Homo sapiens: one gene and its partners. The protein of the gene in region 3 purifies or fractionates together with the protein of the main gene of each other region. This does not show direct contact. Each region holds a gene or a part of one and is shown on either strand. Other genes may lie near its edges.

The links.
Region 1: the proteins of COPG2 (region 3) and SCYL3 purify together in Homo sapiens (affinity purification with mass spectrometry; 2 studies listed by BioGRID and IntAct, with this or other methods). This does not show direct contact.
Region 2: the proteins of COPG2 (region 3) and SCN2B purify together in Homo sapiens (co-immunoprecipitation; one large-scale study listed by IntAct). This does not show direct contact.
Region 4: the proteins of COPG2 (region 3) and APMAP purify together in Homo sapiens (affinity purification with mass spectrometry; one large-scale study listed by BioGRID and IntAct). This does not show direct contact.
Region 5: the proteins of COPG2 (region 3) and RDH11 purify together in Homo sapiens (affinity purification with mass spectrometry; one large-scale study listed by BioGRID and IntAct). This does not show direct contact.
Region 6: the proteins of COPG2 (region 3) and UBE2R2 purify together in Homo sapiens (affinity purification with mass spectrometry; one large-scale study listed by BioGRID and IntAct). This does not show direct contact.
Region 7: the proteins of COPG2 (region 3) and MCFD2 purify together in Homo sapiens (affinity purification with mass spectrometry; one large-scale study listed by BioGRID and IntAct). This does not show direct contact.

The regions. Positions count from the first base shown.
Region 1 is NC_000001.11:169,859,397-169,862,896, reverse strand, and holds part of SCYL3 (protein-associating with the carboxyl-terminal domain of ezrin), read left to right. Parts: intron 1-99; coding exon 100-284; intron 285-3,500. UniProt on the Homo sapiens protein: May play a role in regulating cell adhesion/migration complexes in migrating cells.
Region 2 is NC_000011.10:118,164,473-118,166,639, forward strand, and holds part of SCN2B (sodium channel regulatory subunit beta-2 precursor), read right to left. Parts: 3' UTR 1-2,167. UniProt on the Homo sapiens protein: Regulatory subunit of multiple voltage-gated sodium (Nav) channels directly mediating the depolarization of excitable membranes.
Region 3 is NC_000007.14:130,546,749-130,550,248, reverse strand, and holds part of COPG2 (coatomer subunit gamma-2), read left to right. Parts: intron 1-872; coding exon 873-935; intron 936-1,706; coding exon 1,707-1,846; intron 1,847-2,403; coding exon 2,404-2,575; coding exon of another isoform or gene 2,576-2,607; exon of another isoform or gene 2,608-3,500. UniProt on the Homo sapiens protein: The coatomer is a cytosolic protein complex that binds to dilysine motifs and reversibly associates with Golgi non-clathrin-coated vesicles, which further mediate biosynthetic protein transport from the ER, via the Golgi up to the trans Golgi network.
Region 4 is NC_000020.11:24,968,752-24,972,251, reverse strand, and holds part of APMAP (adipocyte plasma membrane-associated protein), read left to right. Parts: intron 1-675; coding exon 676-792; intron 793-1,880; coding exon 1,881-2,055; intron 2,056-2,591; coding exon 2,592-2,726; intron 2,727-3,167; coding exon 3,168-3,360; intron 3,361-3,500. UniProt on the Homo sapiens protein: Exhibits strong arylesterase activity with beta-naphthyl acetate and phenyl acetate. May play a role in adipocyte differentiation.
Region 5 is NC_000014.9:67,692,965-67,696,890, reverse strand, and holds the start of RDH11 (retinol dehydrogenase 11), read left to right. Parts: upstream 1-1,126; 5' UTR 1,127-1,187; coding exon 1,188-1,261; intron 1,262-3,838; coding exon 3,839-3,926. UniProt on the Homo sapiens protein: Retinol dehydrogenase with a clear preference for NADP. Displays high activity towards 9-cis, 11-cis and all-trans-retinol, and to a lesser extent on 13-cis-retinol.
Region 6 is NC_000009.12:33,914,660-33,918,159, forward strand, and holds part of UBE2R2 (ubiquitin-conjugating enzyme E2 R2), read left to right. Parts: intron 1-2,358; coding exon 2,359-2,578; 3' UTR 2,579-3,500. UniProt on the Homo sapiens protein: E2 ubiquitin-conjugating enzyme that accepts ubiquitin from an E1 ubiquitin-activating protein, and catalyzes its covalent attachment to other proteins by an E3 ubiquitin-protein ligase complex.
Region 7 is NC_000002.12:46,909,307-46,912,806, reverse strand, and holds part of MCFD2 (multiple coagulation factor deficiency protein 2 isoform A precursor), read left to right. Parts: intron 1-1,933; exon of another isoform or gene 1,934-2,027; intron 2,028-3,500. UniProt on the Homo sapiens protein: The MCFD2-LMAN1 complex forms a specific cargo receptor for the ER-to-Golgi transport of selected proteins. Plays a role in the secretion of coagulation factors.

The DNA of each region.
Region 1 (3,500 bases), on a different chromosome or scaffold from region 3:
ATATGTGTAGTTTTGGGTTCAGTGTATGAATTATGCTTAATACTTTTCACTGAAATGAAAATTTGTTTTTTCATCTGTAACCTTTGATTTTTCGGGTAGATCATGCGCAGGGAGAAACTCCTTGCTTGCTCTCACCAGCCCTGTTCCAGTCACGGGTGATCCCCGTGCTTCTCCAGTTGTTTGAAGTTCATGAAGAGCATGTGCGGATGGTGCTGCTGTCTCACATCGAGGCCTACGTGGAGCACTTCACTCAGGAGCAGCTGAAGAAAGTCATCTTGCCACAGGTCAGAGGCCAAGTTTGCAGTGGGGTAGTCACAGAACCTGAGGGAAGAGTGCTGAAAGAAAGAGTTTTGGAGGTATTCAGATAATAGCTTAGAAAGCCTTCAGGCAGCAGTCTGTGGAATACAAAGTGCTGAAATTAAAATTGCATTTCCATTCCATTCACACAGGCAAATTGATTAAACTGACATATTTGGTCTTAACCTGGGAGAAACTATAATTGTTTGTTAATTTTGGGAGGGTAAATGAATAACAATAATGTATGGAGCACTTTGTGAACATAACATATAATTATCCATAATTATTATAAAGTAATTAAATTAGAACAGAGAGGAGCATGAGATGATTCTTATCAGTGGCTTTCAGCCTGTTGTTATCAGCCACTAGGGAACCTTATTATGATTTGCCCACCAAAGGGTTTTGTTAGTGAAACTAATGAAAGGTTTGTATTAGTTGCTTAGGCTGCCATAACAAATTATCACAAATTATAATGGCTTAAAGCAATACAAATTTATTTTTAGTTCTGGAGGCCAGAAGTCTAAAACCAGGGTGTCAACAGGACCCTGCTTCCTCTGAAGGCTGTAGGATGTGAAAGGGACTCCTCTTTACAAGCTTCTCGTAGCTCCCAGCAATCCTTGGTATTTCTTGGCTTGTGGCTGTATCATTCCAGTCTCTGCTTCTGTTGTCACGTGGCCTTCTTACCTCCTTGTCTGTCTTTACATGGCCTCTTAGAAAGACACCAGTCATTGAATTTATGGCCTACCCTAACCCAGTATGACCTCATCTAAAGGTCACATTCTGCATGGACATGAATTTTGGAGGGACACTATTCAACCTAGTATGAGGTTTTAAAAAAATTGTTTTAAAAGACTACAATCACATGGTGTCTTTCAAATAATTTTCCTATGAGATAGATTAACATTCTCTCTGCTTTCAAGGAGCTCATAAGTGGGACATGTTTCAGTCATCCGTTGCCATGTAAGTACCCCAAAACTTAGTGCCTTAAAATAATAATCATTTTATTAATTCTCATGATTCTTTGGATTGACTGGACTCAGCTGAAGGTTCTGTTCCACATATCAGCTGAGTCTTCAGTCATCTGGGGCCCGACAAGGGTTGACACATCCAAAATGGCTCCTTGGTATCTTGGAAGGGGTGGCTGAGAGGCTGCGCCTTTCTCTCCATGAATTTTCAGGAAGCTTGGGGGGCTTGTATCCCCCCATGTGACATTTCCACATGATTTCTCTAGCAAGGCAGGTGGACTTCTTAAATGGCTGGCCAGGGCTAAAGAAAAAAAAAGGGCAAAAGAAGCCTTCTTAAAGTGTAGGTTGTGAACTGACAGTCATTTTTGCCTCATTCTCTCGGTTAGAGTTGGAAAAAGCCCAGGCTCATTGTGGGATGGGTTTACTCAAGGGCATGGATACTGGAGGTGTGATTCGCTGGGGGCTGACTTTAAAGTCTCTGTGTTGTAGTAACTACAACATAGCACTTTGTATTTACATCTGCAGCAGTAATTGTTACCCTGTATGTAGTTGTGTCTGGAAATTTAGAAGAGGAATGAAGCACTTTAACTCTGAAATGGAGTTGTCATCATAGGTCTCAGAATTGGACTGAGGTCAAAGAGTAAATGTTGAGCATGTGGAAGACAATGAAACCTCTCATTACTTAGGAAACTGCTTCCCCTAAAGAAGAGTGGGCCAATTTGTGTGTGCTAGAAAGTTCACTTTGGTAGCAGTGTGGAAGAGACCACAGAAAGGGAGATAAGCTAGGAAGCTGTTAGAATAGTTTAGCTAAGAGATGACAAAGGCTGGGGAAAGTGTGACAGTGGATATAGTAGAGGGACACAGAAGGGGTAGTACTCAGTTTCTCATTAGATGGAAGAGGTGTTGAGGATGACCAATTTTTGGCTTGGGCGGATTGCTGTTTTATGATTATCATATTCAGTGGGCAGAACTCTAATCATATGTAAAAGAAACATGCTTTAGTTTACATGTACAGAAAGTGATCTGTTAGCATTGGTCCTAATAATTATCTTTTGAGTCCTGTTGGAAACCTTTAATCTTACTATATAAATGAGGAAACCAGGCCAGAAAAATAAAAAGACCAATTGGTCAAGTCACATTGAGAATTATTAGCAGAGCTAAGACCAAAACCAAAGATTCCTGATACCTGTCACGCCCTGCTGCTTCCAGTAGGCAGGCCAGTTACCCTGGCCTTGTGTCTGGCTGGTGCAGATGCTTTGAAGGTCATTTCCTTCCTTATATGCAGAGCAGTACTTGCCTGATATCTGCATGTGACTGTCTTCTAAGGTGTTTTTGGTTGCAAGTAACTGAAACTCATTTTAAACCAGCCAAAGCAAAAAAAATTTAAGAATGTTAGACTAACTTAGATGGAAATCAAGTGCAGCTGGGGCTTACAGCCATGTTTTTCATTCCTTTCTTCTGTCTGCATTTGTTTGACTTTTGACTCTCTGAAGACCAGCTTTCCTTGTTTTGGTGTGCACATGGCCAAAATGGTTGTCCCATAACTTCCAAGTTTTCTGTCCTCATAAAAAAAAATTATTTTAGAGATGGGGGTCTCACTGTGTTGCCCAAGCTAGAGTGCAGTGGCTCTTCACAGGCATGAACCCACTACCGATCAGCCCAGGAGTTTGACCTGCTCCATTTCCAACCTGGGCTGGTTCACCCCTCTTTAGGCAACCTGGTAGTCCCCAGCTCCTGGGAGGTTACTATATTGATGCTGAATTTAGTGCAGACACCCAATCAGCATAGCACACTACAGCCCAGAACTCCTGGGCTCAAGTGATCCACATGCCTCAGCCTTCTGAGTAGCTCGGGCTACAGGCACTTGTCCCTGCCTGGCATACTGTCCTCATTGAGTAAACCTATATAAACTGAAAATATAAATTCTAGTTTATATTACTGGACAAAAGATCATGATGGGCTCAGTTTGGGACAGGTGGTCCTACCCTTGAAAAGAGCTGAAAAGAGAAGCATGGACAGGAACATAACTGTTAGTACCCTAGATGAGTTCTGAGTGCGCTCTGCAGAACACTGCCAGTACATGAACTTTTTATTACAGTTCTGTGATGTGAGTACAGATATGAAGACTTAACATTTAAAACCTTTTGTCGCAATTTGACAGAGTAATTTTATGTACCCAACATATGTCTTTTTAATTTTGTTTTGATTGTATTTTTTAAAAATGGTAAGTCTGTGATG
Region 2 (2,167 bases), on a different chromosome or scaffold from region 3:
GCATTTCCAGATGGGCTTGACTCGCTCACCTCACCCAGGTGTTACCAGGCTGGTTGCCCATCCCCCACTCTGCACCCACTCTGCCTGGCCTCTGCACCCTTGACCCTGTTGTATTGCCCCTCTTCCCTGCTGTTTCTCCCTTCCCAGGGCACAGATTCTAGAATCTCTTCATCTTCCCCAACTGTAGCCTTGGAAGCAGTGTCTTGCAGAGGTGGAATTAGATGCACCAAAAAGTTAATCTTGGTCCCTACAGTGCCAACCTGGCAGTCCCCAGTGCTTATGGCTTTGTGTATATCCCCAGTGCCCGGCACAGTGCCTGGCACATAATAGATGCTCAATAAATGGTTGCTGAATTGAAGCAAATTAAGCTGAATCTCCCAGATGATATTGCTGTCTCCCCAAATTGGCAATCTGATGGGCAGAGGCAGGGATTGGTCCCTGAGACTGTCACGGTCCTGTCTCCACCCCCTTTCCTAGACTTATTCCCTACCCTGGGCACCTGACTCCTTGAGTAGGGGTGGGGCAGAGCTCCTGGAAAGGCTGGGAAGTGCTGGGGCAGGGAATGGGGCATTTGCCAGCAGCTGTGCCCTTCACACTTGCTCCCTCCCTCCCTGCTTCCCTCCACTCCTCCTCAGTCCTGGCCAGAGGGGCTGGGCTCCTGGGAGGGGGCAGGGCTAGAGAAGCCCACCCCTCCAACTCGCCCCATCATAGACCAGGACACAGAGGCCCCTCCCACTGGGAAAATGATGGCTCTGTTGCTTCAAACTGGAGACTGAGGAGCCAGAGAAGAGGGCAGGACCCTCAGTTTCTGTCAGTTGGAACCTCAGTTTCCCCATTTTAAGTGAGTGACTTGGCTAGTTGATCTCTGAGGATCTTCCAAGGTCATGGTCTCAGAGTCAGTGTTTCTGCCTCTTGCTCCTTCTCTCAGGCCTAATCAATTTCCATTGAATGTGAGTGTAATGGCAGTGATGGTTGGCTCCGCACAATTGCCTTTTTTTTTTTTTTTTTTTTTTTTTGAGATGGAGTCTCTCTATGTCACCCAGGCTGAATTGCAGTGGCACTATCACTATCTCAGTTCACTGCAACCTCTGCTTCCCGGGCTCAAGCGATTCTCCTGCCTCAGCCTCCCAAATAGCTGGGATTACAGGCACACGCCACCACGCCCAGCTAATTCTTGTATTTTTAGTAGAGATGGGGTTTTGCCCATTTCTACTAAACAGATGGAGGTAATCCACCCGCCTTGGCCTCCCAAAGTGCTGGGATTACAGGCGTGAGCCACTGTGCCTGGCCTACAATTGTCACTTTTGTCCCCACGAAGGGAGTTGTTGGGAGAGGAGCGAGTAGTGTGGCTGCAGATGGGACAGGGCTGGCATTGGCAGCTCAGGTTCCAAGGCCTCCCCTTATGCCGGCCTCAGGCTTTCCCTTCCCTCTCTGTAGCCAAAAGCCAGGTGGAAACCCCACCAAGGGCAACTGGGAGAGTTCTCACTGAAGCCCCAAAGAAAGCTGCCCCACCCTGTGCATGGCCTCCTCATTTCCCAGCCTTGGCTGCCCCTGCCCAGGCGAGGGTGGTTACCCCATGGAGAAGGCAGAGCCTGCAGCAACCTGCATTCACCATGGAGCCCCACCCCTCAGCCCCTCAGCTGACTTTGAAACTGGCCTCTGTTGGTGGGTCCCCGCTGGGAAACATGGCCCCCTACCTGGAGCTGCTCTTCCAGTCTGGCCTCATCCACAGTCCTAAGGGATTAGGAGCCAACGGGAGCCCCAAGGAGGCCACTAGCAATGGAAACGAGGGCCCAACATGGCCTCCTGGGCCAGGGCACATGTCCAGCTTTGCCTGCAGCCCTGGCTTTCCGTCAGTGCCCTGGAATGCACAGTCATCCCTTTAACATGCCCCTCCAAGTTTCAGGAACTCATCGTCACCTCCAGCCTGATGGCTGCTCTGGGCTGGGAGCAGGGGAGGAGCACAGCCGTGCCAGGCCAAGGCCCTCCTGAGGGAGCGCTGTCAGCACAGGAAAGCCCTCCCTCCCCACCAGGTCCTCTCTGAAGCCACTGCCAGGCCAAGCACTGGGCAGGTGGACAGCGGCCCCCTCCTCTACCCCTGCCCACCCACTCCCTTCTCTCTGGGGACCCTCACATGTGCCTCCTGCCTCCCCCCAGGGACTGGCAG
Region 3 (3,500 bases):
AGTAGAGACTGGATTTCACCATGTTGGCCAGGTTGGTCTTGAACTCCTGACCTCAGGTGATCCACCCACCTCGGCCTCCCACAGTGCTAGGATTACAGGCGGGAGCCACCGTGCTCAGCCGATTGTCACCCCTTCTAAATCTTTTAGATTTAAGACATATTTTTATTAGAGTTTAAAAAAAACTCCTGGTTTTTACATAAAAGCAGTAAGATGAAATGCACTCCAAAATGAAGGGTTTTTTTTAATGCAAAGCATTACAGTATCTGAAGTCAGTTGCCACTGTGCATCTCAGAGCAGTAATAGTGCTGTCGCCTCCTATTTTTATTTTCTGAAGTTGATAATCTCTAAGTTAATTGATTTTGTTATTGGAGGTTCGTCTTAAAAGAATTTATGGGCGACAATCATAAAAAATATTCCCAAAGAATATCTAATCTTAAAACTTAAAAACAAAAACAAAAGAAGTCATAAATGTTTAGTGGTTAGAACACAAAACTGGGAAGAAACAATTTTATGCTTATTTTCAACATTTTCAGTTTTTCTGTTGATATAAGTAATTTTTCCTATTTTGATCATGAGAAGATTTTTAAAATAAATTGTTTTTCCTTTTCTGAGTAATTTTTGTACATTCCAGTCCATTTAAAGCAAACTCTATATTTTTAGGGCTTACTTTATGATTCCACAATATATGTTCACTAAATACATTTTAATTTGAGTGTCCCCCCACCAGAAGTGATAGATAACCTATAAGTATGATCTAGTAATAGCTCATTATATATCTGCTAGAAATGTCTGCTCTCCTCTCTTTCTGTCTGCATTGCTAGCTTGATAGTAGTGGGAGAAGTTCACTTACTTGCTCATATCTGTCTTTATAGAAATCACACTTGTGGCTACTAAGCCAGAGAAGTTGGCTCCTTCCAGGCAAGACATTTTCCAAGGTATGATGATTTGATGGTTAGACGTAATAATCTTTCCCCTAGGCATTGTAAATATAAAAAGTCTACCAGTCTTACTCAAATTGATCGGTTCTCAATATAGGAAATCTTCGTGTGGCTGAACACCATAGGGTATAGTTGCTGAGGCTACCTGGAGTCCATGAACTTTCCAGTTTGTAATTGCTAATTGGGAATGTTTTTCTTTTCTGTATCTCGTTGGTTAACAGGGAACTCATTGTAAAATAAGTATTTACTTTCTTTTTTTTTTTTTTTGCTTTTTGCTTTCATTAATATATAAGCTTACTTACTTGAAAGATGACTTCACTAAAACTTGGGGACATATTAGTTGAATGTTCAACTATTAGTAAGGCTATGGAAACTAAAGCATTTTTTTTTTTTGAGACAGAGTCTCGCTCTGTCACCCAGGCTGGAGTGCAGTGGCACAATACCGGCTCGCTGCAAGCTCTGCCTCCTAGGTTCACGCCATTCTCCTGCCTCAGCCTCCCGAGTAGCTGGGACTACAGGCGCCTGCCACCACGCCTGACTAATTTTTTTGTATTTTTAGTAGAGACGGGGTTTCACCATGTTAGCCAGGATGGTCTTAGCCAGGATGGTCTCGATCTCCTGACCTCGTGATCCGCCTGCCTCGGCCTCCCAAAGTGCTGGGATTACAGGCGTGAGCCACTGCTCCTGGCCAACTAAAGCATTTTTTAAGCATCCAGACTGAAGTCTTTCCCTGTCTTCTTCATAGCCTACGTTCTTTTTTCTTGATAGAACAATTGGCTGCCATTCCTGAGTTTCTGAATATAGGACCCTTGTTCAAGTCTTCTGAGCCTGTTCAACTTACAGAAGCAGAGACAGAATATTTTGTTCGATGTATCAAGCACATGTTTACCAATCACATCGTGTTCCAGGTAAGATAATGCCCTTGGCTGCTGTAGAGATTTAGTATAAACTGGTATGCTTTGAGACAAATATCCTTTACCTATAATTCTAGTTTCTATTATAGAGAATTAATTTGGCAGAATTTCTGGTTTTCTTGCTTAACACCAGAGCTATAGAGATCCCTTCATGTGATGGGTAACTTTTGATGGTTAAAATCTAAAGGACATAAAACTGAAATGTGTGATGAAGTTGGACAACATAAAGTATAACCAATTTTCTAAAATCAGCATTTAACATCAGGGTAGATTAAGTGGGCTATTCTGAGAACTTAGATTTGACAGCCATCAGACTTCTGCCATCTTGTTTGAGACAGCAGTCTCAGGAAAGAGAAAAAACTGATGAATAATATAAACAAAAGACCTCAAGAATAAGGCTCTCCCTGTTGCCAAAAGAAGAATCTTAGGAGGAGACCTACCCTGCTCTGTAGAGATAGAAGGTATAGTGGGTTCCAGAGCTGAGTAGTGGGTTATGAGTAGGAAGGATAACTTGTTATCCTTCACAGCTTTTCCATTTACTGACTTTTCAGTTTGACTGCACCAACACTCTCAATGACCAGCTGCTGGAAAAAGTGACAGTGCAGATGGAGCCATCAGATTCCTATGAAGTGCTGTCTTGTATCCCAGCCCCCAGCCTTCCTTATAACCAACCAGGAATATGTTACACTCTTGTTCGTTTGCCTGATGATGACCCTACAGCAGGTACTAACCCTCAGAAGGGAGGAGATACGTGATTCAGAATGCATTTCCTTGTGAGCTCTTCAACTCTTCAAATGCTCAGTTTAAGAATGTGATGCTTTTCTAGAATTTAATGATGAGTGTTTGTGTGTGTGTGTTTGTGTGTGTGTGAATATATATATTTATAAAATGGTTTACTGCTGCAGAAATATTAATTTTAAAACTAAATCTCTGAGTAAAATTTGCTGAACACTTAATCTTAAAAGAGAAACTGAGTGTGTATAGCAGTAGCACAAAAAGGAACTCAAGCTTTCTGTTGGAATAATGTGACCACTTGTGAGAGTTCATATACCTGGTCTCCTGTGAAGAATCTTGACCCTCTTCTCCTCAAAGTTTCTATCTAGTTAGATAGAACTTGGTTATGTAGTAGATTGTTGGCATTTTAAAATACATCATTTTTGAAGGTCCTGTAGCATAAGGCTGGTGTCTGAGAGCATGTCTCAGCCTAGTGAGTAGCTTAGCCAACCATGTGTGTCCACATTAAGAAGGGCTTTTAATTCCCTCCTTGACCCATATGCAGTCTTTGCAGGGTGGAGAAATAGCCCCTAAAAGACAGCCAACTAGTGCCAATAGTAGTATTTACTTATTTGGAGACTTGGGAAGGTGAATGTCAAGTATTTATTCTACTTGATTCCCCCCATCATCATTTTCCTCCTTGATTTCTTCTCTTCTCATGTTCAGTGCACAATATTCGTAACTGTTACCCAGTTTTCACAGAAATAAGCACACACATCACATTTATGTTTTGAACAACTTTTACTGCTCGTAAGTACAGGAGAAACAGAAGTTAAAAAATTAACAAATACTGGGAAAGTTACAGAGTTACAATAAATCATAAAAGCACTAGTAAATAGTTATCCCTGGTCATCATTCAGTTACATTTGGGGCT
Region 4 (3,500 bases), on a different chromosome or scaffold from region 3:
TGAGCACTCCACTTGAACACCCTGCAGTAAGCACCTGCAGTGAGTACCTCACAGTGAACACCCTGCAATAAGCACCTGCAGTGAGCACCCCACAGTGAACACCTTGCAATAAGCACCTGCAATGAGCACCCCACAGTGAACACCCTGCAATAACCACCTGCAGTGAGCACCCCACAGTGAACACCCTACAATAAGCACCTGCAGTGAGCACTCTACACAAACACCCTGCAGTAAGCACCTGTAGTGAGCACCCCACAGTGAACACCCTGCAGTAAGCACCTGCAGTGAGCACCCTGCAATAAGCACCTGCAGTGAGTACCCCACAGTGAACACCCTGCAATAAGCACCTGCAGTGAGCACCTCACAGTGAACACCCTGCAATAAGCAACTGTAGTGAGCACCCTGCAATAAGCACCTGCAGTGAACACCCCACAGTGAACACCCTGCAGTAAGCACCTACAGTAAGCACCCTGCAGTGAGCACCCCACAATGAACACCTTGCAATAAGCACCTGCAGTGAGCACCTGCAGGGCAGTTGTAGCTCTAATGCCATGGTCTTGTCTTGTTCTGTACAGCATGATGTATGGGAAGGGATGGATGAGATGCTTGGATACTGAGAACAGCACATGTAGAATCCGGGACCAGCTACCAATCCCCATCTGTTTGTTTTTCTAGAAACCCGAGATGATGAGCCTGTGTGTGGGAGACCCCTGGGTATCCGTGCAGGGCCCAATGGGACTCTCTTTGTGGCCGATGCATACAAGGGACTATTTGAAGTAAATCCCTGGAAACGTATGTGACAATATCTCGTTTCCTTCTATGAAGATTTTAGATCTTTTAAACAATATATGTATGTGTAGACTTAATAGGATTTGTTAGCAACAGTCTACTAAAGACTCTGATATTTCTTATTCACTGAACAGTACTGAAAACATTGCCTGCAAAAGTCAGCTAGTTTTAAACACCAGAAAACTCCCTACCCATGATTCCATTTGGTCCGTATCCTAATTTCCTCCTAGTATTTATATTTTAGCCACAGGGTCTCAAAAGGACTTATTTTGAGGAAGTTAGACCTCTTTCTGTCTTGATTTTTCTGTGTGTCTCTCTGCGTCTTGTCTATTTGTTTTCTCTCTTTCTTCTCTGTGGCCCTCCCCTTTGTCTCTTCCTTTCTGTTTTCTCCTGTAGTTCCTCCTCTTCTCTCCCCTGATTGCTCATGAGTCCCCTTGATCAGGCTGTAATACGTGCTGTGTGTCTCAGTGGAGGTTCCTGCTGGGGAGGAGTCCGTTGTCTTGTGCGTGGGGGCCCGAACATAGGCCCTGCAGCCCAGCTGCTTGGGGGCATTCCACTCTGCTGGCCACCAGCTGTGACTGCAGGTCCCTTAGTTGCTCTCTGCCCAGCTTCCTCATCAAATTGGGGTCATAGTAGCCCTGCCTGTGGGATTGTTGCGAGGGTTTAAAGGCGATCACACCTCGAGAGTGCTTAGCACTCAATCCATGTTCTTTCTATTATTTTTCAAAACTTACTACTACTTTTCTTTTCTAAAAGGAGATGAGTAGAATGTCATATTTCTCTCAAATAGAACTAACAAATAGAACTGAAGCCTGCCTAACACTTGCAGTAGATGTTATCAAGTCAGTTGGCCTTAGTAAAAGAAGGAATTCCTCATCCTTATAGAAAAGATTCTGCCTTTAATGAAATTAGTCTAAAAAAATCATTTAACACCTAATACTGTTTTTACTATAAGAAGGAATAAATCTTCTGACAAATGACATGGAGAAGTTTCAGTTTTTCTTTTTAAATCAGTTAGGTTGGTTAATATTTTGCAATTATTGAGAAGTTCCTAGTTCAAGTCAATCTTTTTCTTTCTTTTTAAACTTCAGGTGAAGTGAAACTGCTGCTGTCCTCCGAGACACCCATTGAGGGGAAGAACATGTCCTTTGTGAATGATCTTACAGTCACTCAGGATGGGAGGAAGATTTATTTCACCGATTCTAGCAGCAAATGGCAAAGACGAGACTACCTGCTTCTGGTGATGGAGGGCACAGATGACGGGCGGTGAGGCCTTGCTCCAGGTCTCCCATTTGTTGAGTTCACCAGCCAGGCCAGTTGCTTCAGCAGAGCCTGTTACTTCTAGGGACCAAGGGAGTATTTCCAGCATCATATTTCAGCTTCTAGGACAGGACCTTAGTGGCTTCTGGAGGCAGGTGATGGATGTCACAAAATGGAACAAGGTGCTTTCGTTTTCTCTGAGGAAATAAAACAGGCCAGTCCGTCTGAGGGTGCAAGTCTAGGCAGTCGAGAGAGACCCCGGAGGCAGGCCTGGGCTTTGGGTTGCCTCTCTGAGGGGTATTCCTGTCCAGCTCCCAGGTGAGCAAGATAACTGACCTTGGGGTTCCCTGGAGGGGACACTGGATCTGCTGTGGATGGGGAAGGGCCCCCAGGGGCCAGCCTCGAATCAAGTTTGAGCAGGGCACCCAGGGCCTGTTGCTCCGGGGTGAGGCGGAGTCACCTTCTTCAGGCCCATACCCTGAAGGCCCAGAGTGGGAGCCAGGGATTCTCCCCCATAACCCTCTGCTTTTGGTGTTCCACAGCCTGCTGGAGTATGATACTGTGACCAGGGAAGTAAAAGTTTTATTGGACCAGCTGCGGTTCCCGAATGGAGTCCAGCTGTCTCCTGCAGAAGACTTTGTCCTGGTGGCAGAAACAACCATGGCCAGGATACGAAGGTGTGTGTGGGATTAGCTGAGCCATCAGTTACTGGCCAGAGCGCATCATGGCCGGGGTGGGGTGGGCATGGAAATGGGATCGACAGAAATCAGAGGCAGCAGCGCACCTTCTGCATGGCATGTTAAAGAAAATTCAAGGGTGCGCTTTCTTTCTCCCATTGCGAGTCGCAGTCCGGAAGAGTGTCTTAAGGCTGACTGGTGCAGCCCGGGCCCCATTCCCCTGCTGGCAGGGCCTTGGTCCTCCCCTGACCTACTTCCCCTCTGTTCATACTGGGCCCTGTGCACAAAGGTTTCTTCTCAGCAGCTGAGCCTTTGTTCATGATGGTCATAGAGCACTTTCCATATATATATTTGGACCAAGACCAGTTTGGTGCTTGGCTAAAATTTTTTTTCTGAAATTGAGGGGCTATGGTTCACTCTCTGCTTGGGTGAATTTTTCAGAGTCTACGTTTCTGGCCTGATGAAGGGCGGGGCTGATCTGTTTGTGGAGAACATGCCTGGATTTCCAGACAACATCCGGCCCAGCAGCTCTGGGGGGTACTGGGTGGGCATGTCGACCATCCGCCCTAACCCTGGGTTTTCCATGCTGGATTTCTTATCTGAGAGACCCTGGATTAAAAGGATGATTTTTAAGGTAACTGTGAAAACTGTTATTCCAAGAAAGAAAATGGAAATGAATTGAATCATATTTTTTTGACCCTTATAGCTTAAAAATCTAGTTCTGCTTGTAGTATTTGGCTCTGAATGACACTTAGAAACACATTTCATTCTTCA
Region 5 (3,926 bases), on a different chromosome or scaffold from region 3:
AAATATATTAGTTCATTGGAACCCGTGTCTTTTAACCAAATGGAAATTATGCAAAAGGACCAGAAAATATTACTGGGTACAATTAAGGAATCACAGACAGATATTGATTGGTTAAAACACCCTCCACTTTCACCCCCAGGAAATAGGCCTCAGATGAAAGAAACTATTGAACAGGGAACCTATTTATTCACAGAGAACATATTCATGGCCTTAATTCAAGACAGGATTAAATACTTTCACGAGTTGGCAAAACCAACTGTGCCAATCTGAGATATTCATTGCTACCCTGGGAGTTAATGTATGTGACCCAAGCCATCAGGAAGACGATATTCTATTATCAATGAACACTCAAACACTAGAAAAATCATGATAGTTGCCACCATAATTCAAGATAGACACAATAAAGTGATTCTCCTGAGAATGTCTTCAAGGACTTATTGCTTCCTCTTCTCTGGAAAAAGGAATCCTCGAGGAGGAAGGGTTTACATTCCCCCACCTTCCCAACTGTCAGACTTCGGACCGCTCCTCTCCTGTCTAATCCGCCTTTCATTTCCCAGACGCCAACATCTGATCTCCAGGAGAAACAGTGCGGTAACTGCCTAACCAGGATTGGGGAAAACTGAACCAGGCACTGGACTTGGGTCTGGGGAGATAGAGGACTGCAGAGATTTCACAAACACCGCGGTGCCTAGTACACTATAGGAATAAGTGTACTATTCCTATAGTGTATACTTTTTTTTTTCCAGAAAAATCCCTCTGGGGTATGAGCACTATTTTCAGTTCTGGTTCAACTTTTCATTGAGATTCTATGTGGATAAGAGGATCTTGTAGTGAAAAAAAGATAAAAAGCAGTGTTTTCATCTGAGTGTGAGAAACCATGTGTGCCTAGAGGTGGGAGAACTGAGTATTCAGAAGGCAGAAAAAATAACTGAGAGCTGGGTGAATGATCCCACAGGCCCTAAGCCCTAGATGGTTGGGGATTAGCGATGTATAATTCAACTTCTGCCAGCGTTGGCGGCAGCGCTCCCACGTAGCCAGCCTGAGGCTGTCAAGCTCTGGACTACATTTCCCAGAAGGTCTGCTCCCCGGGCTGTCGCAATTTGAATTGGGGCGTGTCTAGAAAGAGAAGCCATAGTCGGCGAGCAACGCTGGAGCATCCCGCTCTGGTGCCGCTGCAGCCGGCAGAGATGGTTGAGCTCATGTTCCCGCTGTTGCTCCTCCTTCTGCCCTTCCTTCTGTATATGGCTGCGCCCCAAATCAGGTCTGTGCAAATGTATTGCCTTCTCTTGAGAATTCTTGTTGCGGGGCGGGAGGGAAACATAGAATCCCCACCAAAGCTTTCTTGGAAAACTCCCCTGGGGGGGCTCCAAGATGGCGGAGCCCAGAGTTCGGTGGGTTGGAGGCGAGGTCCAGCTGTCCTGGGTGCCAGGAGGACACCCGAGACCCCAGGCGGTGAGAAAGGGCGGCAGTCCGGGGCACACTGCTTTTCCCTGGCCTGTTTTTCTTTTGTCTAAGCACCCCCTGATTCTGGCTCCAGGGAATCCCGAGGGTAAGGCTACCTCAAACGCTTGAGTTTCGGACTCTTCAATGGGATATGGCCCGACGCTGTTTTCCCCTTATTCCCCACGCCTTAAACCAGCCTTCGAGGTACAAAGGAGCGATTCCACATTTCGCCCTCTGAAACTGATAGCAATCGTAACATCTGCGGCCCCATCCTTGCTCTCTCGTTGCTGTTACAATCGCTTGTTCTGTGGGCGGATGTTGTAAAGGAGAAAAGTGAAAAGGAAGAGTGTTTGGTTATGAGCTCTATCCTGCCTTGCGAGCAGGAGCACGGGGGATCTGAGTTAGGAGCTAGGGTACTGGGGCGGTGAGGGCTGGGAGAATGGTGGGAAGGTATTGACCAGGTGATAGATCAATCAGCCCAAGGCTGGCCAAGTGCCCCAGTGAATCAGCAGCGGGCTGTAAAACCGGCAGCCTGCTTATTGGTTCTAAGTAAATCACCAGTGGTGACGGACCAGTGACTGAATAGACAGACACACTCCTTCCCCAGGTGGGCGGTCTTAGTCCCAATAGAACTTGAAGCCAGGCCAGATCACAGTCATTTCTTACCACAGTCACCTACTTTCCTTCTTTTATTTTTATTTTCTCTTCCTTCTCTGGTGCCCCTCTTCCAGTTATATTTTTTCTGCCTTCTGAACACTCAGTTCTCCCACCTCTAGGCACACATGGTTTCTCACACTCAGATGAAAACACTGCTTTTTATCTTTTTTTCACTACAAGATCCTCTTATCCACATAGAATCTCAATGAAAAGTTGAACCAGAACTGAAAATAGTGCTCATACCCCAGAGGGATTTTTCTGGAAAAAAAAAAAATATATGTGTGTATATATATATATATATGTGTGTGTGTGTATATATATATATGTGTGTGTGTGTGTATATATATATATATATATATTCCAGGAGCTGTATTCCCAACTCAGCAGGGTTATGGGAGTCGGGCCAGAGCTGGACTTTTATAGTTGTCTCTTTCATTCCTGCTGGTTAAGGAGAAGAAAGAACTAAGTACAGGTCCTACTAAGTTGTCACTCCTGGAGCTACATACAGTAAGGGGATGTGGGAAACAGCCTAGAGGCTTGTTTTCTGAGGAGGGAGGTGATGGTTTGTGGGGACCATGAGTTAATCTGCCTCCCTGTCAGCATTTTCGCACTATGCAGGTAGCTTCAATGGCTAAGAGTATGTACCTTGCAATTCCAAGTTCAATGAAAAAGGCTGAAATGCTCTTTAAGAATGCATCTCCTGGTCAACAGATTGTTTTAACCAGAGTCCCAACATTGCCAAGAAGAGAATAGGCCAGTCTGAGAACCACCAATCTGTGTTTGTGCATTCATTCATTTGGAAAAGGCAATATAGTATAGTACTTAGAAACAAGCACTCTAGGCTGGGCTTGGTGACTCACACCTGTAATCCCAGCACTTTGGGAGGCTGAGGTGGGCGGATCACCTGAGGTCAGGAGTTCGAGACCATCCTGGCCAGCGTGGTGAAACCCTGTCTCTACTAAAAATACAAAAATTAGCTGGGCGTGGTGGCGCATGGGTGAGGGGGTGAGGGATGAGAATCGCTTGAACCTGGGAGATGGGGGTTGCAGTGGAGGTGGAGGTTGCAGTGAGCCGAGATCACACCATTGCACTCCAGCCTGGGCAACAAGAGCAAAACTCTGTCTCAAAAAAAAAAAAAAGAGAAAGAGAAAGAAAGAAACAAGGACTCTAATTACACAAAGCAAGACTTGAATCCCAGCTCCCCTTTGTACATACATAATCTTCTCTTTGTTTTAAGTGTGTATGTGCATGCGTGTGGGTGTGTTTTTTTTTTCTTGTTTATTTTGTCCCAGAGTCACAAGCTTTCATAATTTTAACTTTTTGTATTGGATTAGCCATTTCTCAAGGCCATAAAATGCCAGTTGTGGACAGATTGACCTACAGAAACTAGTTATTTCTTCTTCTGGGCTGAATCTTGTGATTTCCTAAGTCACAAGTGCCTTAGAGAGCTCAAACCAAAGCCAGGTGCCTGGCTAAGCAGGTATTCATCCAGTTCTTGTGCTGCAGAGAACAGCTGTAAGCTTTGCCCTTGTAATAGAATCACTTTTGTCTTTGAGCAAAAGCAGAAAACTTTTGTCATCTTTCCTCCAACTTTCCTTAAATGGACACTGTTTCCTTAAAAGGACAACAGTGGAAAGAACTAAAGCAAACCTCAGCCAGAAGACACAGGGAGTTGCAGGAACCTACTGGCTGAGACAGTAGAATGAAGAATTGATGAGCTCTCCTTCTCTGTCTGCAGGAAAATGCTGTCCAGTGGGGTGTGTACATCAACTGTTCAGCTTCCTGGGAAAGTAGTTGTGGTCACAGGAGCTAATACAGGTATCGGG
Region 6 (3,500 bases), on a different chromosome or scaffold from region 3:
CTACCAAAAAATATAAAAGTTAGTTGGGCATAGTGGCACACACCTGTAATCCCAGCTACTCGGGAGGCTGAAGGCAAGAGAATTGCTTGAACCCGGGAGGCAGAGGTTGCAGTGAGCTGAGATCGCGCCACTGCACTCCAGCCTGGGAAACAAAGCAAGACACCGTCTCAAAAGAAAAAAAAAAAAAAGACAGTCAGCTGGGCACAGTGGCTCACGCCTGTAATCCCAGGACTTTGGGAGGCCGAGGCGGGCAGATTGCTTGAGCCCAGGAGTTTGAGACAAGCCTGGGCAACATGGCAAAATACCATCTCTACAAAAAAATTAGCCAGGAGAGGTGGCTTATACCTGTAATCCCAGCTACTTGGGAGTCTGAGGTGGGAGGATTGCTTGAGCTCTGGAGCCAGAGGTTGCAATGAGCTGAGATTGCGTCACTGTGCTCTAGCCTGGGTGACAGTGGGAGACCTTGTCTCAAAAAAAAAAAAAAAATCAAATAGTTGGCCAGGGGACCAACATGGACTAAACTGAGGTAGTAGTAATGGGGATGAGGGGACAGATATAAAAATATTTAAGCTGTAAAGCAATAGGTCTTTGGAGTGAGATTTATTATTTTAAGAAGCAATGCTCATTTATTCAGAGAAGTAAAATGGGAGAAACTGTCCATAGAGGTAGAAAATGCATATGCAGTCTACCTCTGCATATGGAACATTAGGACAGAGGCTTCCAAAAGGCATTTGTTTATATAAGCCAAGAGCTGTCAGCATAAAGGGAGTGGTGGTTAAAATTATGGGAACAGAGATGATGTCCCAGGGAGAGTGCTGAGAGTGTGGAGATTGAAGCCCAGAAGCCTCAGGACCATCAATATTCAAAGCAAGGCAACAGAAGAAAAGCTTCAAGCACAACTAAGAGATTGACATTAGGAAGATCAGGAAGAGTGGTCTAGTCTTGATGACTCAAATTTTTATAATTGTTGAAGGAAACAATTTATTGTTTGTTCATTCATACAATCAGTATTTATTGCACACCTCTTATGTGCCAGGCTATGTGCTAGGCACTGACTGGGGAAATGGGACTAAGAAAGACATTTACGCTCACATTCAAATATGTGGAGACAGAAGAGTGAGCAAGCAAAAAATACTAGATAGTGCTAAGTAGGATAATGTGAAAGAATGACTAGATGGCTGCTTTAAATTGGGTTGTCAGGCCAGGCCTTCTCTAAGGTGATATTTAAGCCTTAATATCTGAGGCCGTGATTCTGAGTGACAGGAAGGAGCCAGGCATGTGTGGGGCAGGGGAAGAGCAACTGGTCCAGACAGAAAAATCAACAAGGTGTGTCCGAGATGCCAAAAAAAGACCAGGGTGAATGTGTTGAAGGGCTGGAGAAAATACAAGAGTGGGTCATGTGGCCGGGTGCAGTGGCTCATGCCTGTAATCCCAACACTTTGGGAAGCCGAGGTGGGCAGATCATGAGGCCAGGAGTTCGAGACCAGCCTGGCCAACATGGTGAAACCCCATCTCTACTAAAAATACAAAATTTAGCCCGGTGGGGTGGCGGGAGCCTGTAATCTCAGCTACTTGGGAGGCTGAGGCAGGAGAATTGCTTGAACCTGGGAGATGGAGGTTGCAGTGGGCCGAGATCACGCCGCTGCACTCCAGCCTGGGTGACAGAGCAAGACTCCGTCTTGGGTGGGGAAGAGTGGGTCGTGCAAGACACTGGAATCTGGCATAGGCATTTGAATTTTACTGTCAGTGAAAATTAAGAGGATAATTAAATTAAGAATTGTTGGGGCACTTGAGTTTGGTGGTGAGGTGACTAGGCCAAAACCCTAGCCAATCCCCTAAGCACCCCACCCCACATTAAACCAGAGTGGGACGTTTTATTCACATATGCAACCTTTATGATCTAGCCCCAAGAAACTAGGAGGCGTATTAGCCCTTCTATTATCTATTCTTATTCTGGCAGTTATCCCTGTGCTTCACACATGCAAACAACAAAGCATGACATTCCGCCCACTAAGTCAATACCTGTTCTGATTCTTAAGTCGCCGACCTATTGGCCCTTACATGAATCGGAGGACAGCCAGTTGACGAGGTGATTCTGGCTATAATTGATCCACTGCTTTAAACTCCCTTGATATTAACAGTGTATTTCCCCTCCTAAAAAGTCAAAGTTTACTTCAAAATTGTACCCAGTGGGTTGAAAGCATTTGGTGTAGTACAGGGTATCTGTCAGATGCTTTCAGGCAGGTACTGAAGTTTGGAGAGCTGAGTCATAAGTAATATTGATTATTTAAGGCCAATTATAAATCTGTCTTAAAAAAAGACTTACCGTAAACCATTTCTGTGTCAACCTCCCTTCAGGAAACAAGTTTCAGCCACTAAGGCCGAAGCAGAAAAGGATGGAGTGAAGGTCCCCACAACCCTGGCGGAATACTGCATCAAAACTAAAGTGCCTTCCAATGACAACAGCTCAGATTTGCTTTACGACGACTTGTATGATGACGACATTGATGATGAAGATGAGGAGGAGGAAGATGCCGACTGTTATGATGATGATGATTCTGGGAATGAGGAGTCGTGACGTGCTCCTTCAGTGCCCCTGTACTGCCCTGCCATCTCAGGCCAAAGGGAGGGGAGCAAGTGGGGACCTGGCCATGGCCCCTCAGCAAAAACCTATTCACAGCGGGTGGGGAAACACACACAGCTCCTGCTGACTCCCCTTATGGATCTCAGTTTGCTCCTTTTTATGGACCTTTAATGGAGAGAGAGTAACCCTCCACAGAATGTCTGAATTCTTGCATTCTTTACCCTTCCATCACTATATTGATTCTTTTTTTAAAAAATATGAACCCAAACTCCCGCCTCACTTCGTCTCTACAGAATGTTCACAGCAAAACACGTTTGGTCTGTTTTTAGATTCTTGAAGAATTCAATAGTCTTTCAAGATGTTTAATGTGTTTAAAGCTGGGAACCTGTTGGGAGTTCACAAGTGCTGCATATACTGGGTAGCAAAAGAAAATGGAAAAAAACCCACAAAACAAACTTTAAAAAAAAAAAAAAACAAATTTGCCAAGGTTTAGCTGCTCATTTACATTAGTGTGTGTGCATTCGTTCAGCCCCATGGTGGTGAATTCTGTTTCTTTCCTTTCCTAAGGCTGGGACATGGTGGGCATCAGGGACTTTGTGCTAAGCCTGATGAAATGTGCTCCTTCAATCTCCATGAAACCATCGTAACATGGAGGCCTCAGCTGCTCTGAGGAGAGAAATCAGACTTTGTTTTTTGAAATCGATTGGGATCGAAAGCCTGAAATAAATATTCATACTTTCCATAGAACTGAGCACTTGGTTGCTATTTATTTTAAAGGCAGGGTTATTTCCCCCCAGGGAGTGGGGCAAGCGGGGAAGTTGGGATGAGTGCGTGTGGGAGCAAAGAGTTAAAAATCACTATGCTAAGTTTGGTTGATGCTACTGGGGGGAAAAAGTTGAAACTACTGGTGACCACT
Region 7 (3,500 bases), on a different chromosome or scaffold from region 3:
AGGCACTGTGCCTGATACTGGGAATGTGGATTCAGTCCAAGTCCTCTTAAAGCCCATCCAGCAAGGGGCACTGACAAGTAATCAGGCAGTTTTTCAAGAATTCATTCACACACAAGAAAACAAAAGAAAAAAAAGAATTAATTTGCAGCTGTCATCAGCTGTGGACGGGAGCCTTCTGAAGGGAAGCACTTGGGAGCCTGCAGGACGAATACCTACACCAGACTTGGAATTGAAAAGACCTCACTGGAGAAAGAGACATTTGATGTAAATGAGTCTGAAAGGCTTGGGAGGAGCTTGATTCCCTTCTCTGATCCTTCCTGTCCCAGAACTCTAAGATGTGTGGTCAGAACAAGTTGTTCTGCTATGGCCTAGGCAGTCACTGCTAGGAGTAACCTGAAACCTTGTTTTGTGGTACCAGGTACAGTGGCAGTGGCCTTGTCAGGGTCTGGACACGTTTAAAAAATTTTTTTGAGACAGTCTCACTCTCTTGCCCAGGCTGGAGTGCAGTGGTGTGATCTTGGCTCACTGCAATCTCTGCCTCCCGGGTTCAAGCAATTCTTGTGCCTCAGCCTCCCAAATAGCTGGGATTACAGGTGCACGCCACCATGCCCAGCAAATTTTTTTTTGTATTTTTAGTAGAGACGCATTTTGCCACATTGGCCAGGCTGGTCTCAAACTCCTGACCTCAAGTGATCCACTTGCCTCGGCCTCCCGAAGTGTTGGGATCATAGATGTGAGCCACTGTCCCTGGCCAAGGTCTGGGCACTTTTATTTGGTAAAATTGGAAGTGTAGTTTCTGACTGTTTCTGAATTATTTTGTGGAGATAAGAATTAACCGGAAACTCCTTTTGTATCCGATCCATATAGTATTGGGACAAAATTATGGGATAGATTACATTGAATACATATTCATAAAAAATGGTAGCAGATCTCGGCTCACTGCAGGCTCCACCTCCGGGTTCATGCCATTCTCCTGCCGCAGCCTCCCAAGTAGCTGGGACTACAGGTGCCCGCCACCACGCCTGGCTAATTTTTATTTTTGTATTTTTAGTAGAAACGGGATTTCACCGTGTTAGCCAGGGTGGTCTCGATCTCCTGACCTCGTGATCTGCCCGCCTCGGCCTCCCAAAGTGCTGGGATTACAGGCACGAGCCACCATGCCGGCTGAAAATCACAATTCTAATCTCATGTCTCAAGATAATCTTTGTTATTAGTTTGTGTAGGAAATACACATTTTTATTTTACAAAAGTGTATTATTCTTTATTGCTTTTTTGCAGCCTGTTCTTTTTCATTCAATATATATTGAGCATTCTTTCCTATTAAGTATGACATATTGCTTTTTTTTTTTTTTAAACTACAGATATAAAAGGTCTGAGGTGGCCGGGCACGGTGGCTCATGCCTGTAACCCCAGCACTTTGGGAGGCCGAGGCGGGTGGATCACCTGAGGTCTGGAGTTCGAGATCAGCCTGGCCAAGATGGTGAAACCCTGTCTCTACTAAAAACACAAAAATTAGCTGGACGTGGTGACATGCACCTGTAATCCCAGCTACTCGGGAGGCTGAGGCAGGAGAATTGCTTGAACCTGGGAAGCGGAGGTTGCAGTGAGCCAAGATTGCGCCACTGCACTCCAGCCTGGCGAAAGAACAAGACTCTGTCTCAAAAAAATAAAAATTAAAAAATAAAAGGTCTGAGACAGATTGCATTTTGATGTCACTGTTTAGAAGTAGACTAGATTCTAGGTGCTTTTTAGCACCCTGGAAGTTTCTTCCTTTTTTTGGTGGTGGAGGACAGGGTCTCACTCTGTTACCCAGGCTGGAGTGTACTTCAGCCTTGAACTCCTGGGCTCAAGCAATCTTCCTATCTCAGCCTCCTGAGTGGCTGGGACTATAGGGGTGCACTGCTACGCTCAGCTAATTTTTTATTTTTTGTAGAGATGGGGGTCTGACTGTGTTGTCTAGGCTGATCTCAAACTCCTGGCCTCAAGTGATCCTCCTGCCTCAGCCTCCCAAAGTGCTGGGATTACAGGTATGAACCACCATGCCTGGCCTATCCTGGAAGTTAGACATCCCAGTGACTATTGTCCCCTTTAAGGAGGGGGCCATGGGAAGCAATACTGGTAATGGGAAAAACGGATTTGGGAAATTTTTCTAAGTGTTGTAGGGTGGCATACTCACACTTTCAGGGTTCTGCCCTGAGAGCCTTTTAGGATGGGTAAGAGGGACTATAACACCTCTACCTCTCAGCCCCAGGCACAAAGACAGCTACAGCTTCTGAGCTGAGCCCTGTGTGTAGCATGTAAAGGGGATGACCAGTGCCTTATGGTTTGTCTTTACCACTGCTGGTTTGGGGCTGTGGACTACAATTGACCTGTTAGAAATCCCTGGCCTTGTTATCTAGCAGAATCTGTTTTGCCTGTTGGGAAGTGAGTGTTCGGTCAGGTCTTTTGTTTTTGTATGTAGGTCACCTGGCTGTCCTTCACCTTCCTTTTTGAGGTCAGTCTGTCAGCCCTAGGACAGACCAAGACTTTCCATTGAATCAACAATTATTAAAGGCCTGCCTGACCCTTGGCGGGTAATACTGGTGGGGTTAAAGTTCTCCCTGCCCTCCAAGAGCTTGCTCTGTAGCTGACTGTCATCTTATTGACCACAATTCCAAGTGTGGCCAAACCCTGGGAGTTCCTGATGGCATCCTGATTTCTCTGTAACTTTTCTTTCCAGTGCCCGCTCACTGTAGTTACTTGCCACTGTTACCACCCAGGAGGTACAGAACCTTGTCCGCTGCCGCAGACCTTGATCTGACCCGCCTTACCACTCCCTTGGCTACCATGCTCCTGCCTCTAGTCTTGCTTTTGCCACTTCATGCCTTCCCCACTGTGCTGCCAGATGAGTCATTCTGAAACCAAGCTCTGATCTCACCTCCCATTCATGAATTGTAAGTGACTCTCCTGTCTTTCTCTGCAGGAGATGTCAAGCCCTGGCCTAGTGTGCAAAGCCCTGTCCAGTACAGCCTGTCTAGGCCTTGGAGCCACCTCTGTCCTGTCTGCTTCCTACCCTCTAGGCTGCAGCCCAGCTGAACTACTTGTAGTTTCTTTCCCGCTTGTGGGCACCTGCCACTCTGCTCCCACCATTCCTGTGGTCCTTCAGTCCCTGCATATCTGTCCAGGCCCAGCTGAAGTGTCACCAGCTCTATCAGCCTTCTCTGATTTTCCTCCACTCGGAGGAGATTTCTTCCCCTGAACTCCTAGAGGGTTTTCGCTTTCTCTGATAATCTGATATAACTTGCTGGCTGCCTTTCCTGGTGCTCTTGATAGAAAATATTTCTTTCAGGGGACCATAACTTCTGGGAGGCAAGAATAATCTTCCAGTCCCTTCAAGCTTTCACGTGTTGCTTGGCACTCTGCAGGCACTTCAGGAAACCTCGTGAGCCTTCCCCTGCCATTTGAGTGACTTGGAGTGCCCAGGGTCATCCCACAGTCTCAAAGCAGAGCTGGCATTGGGC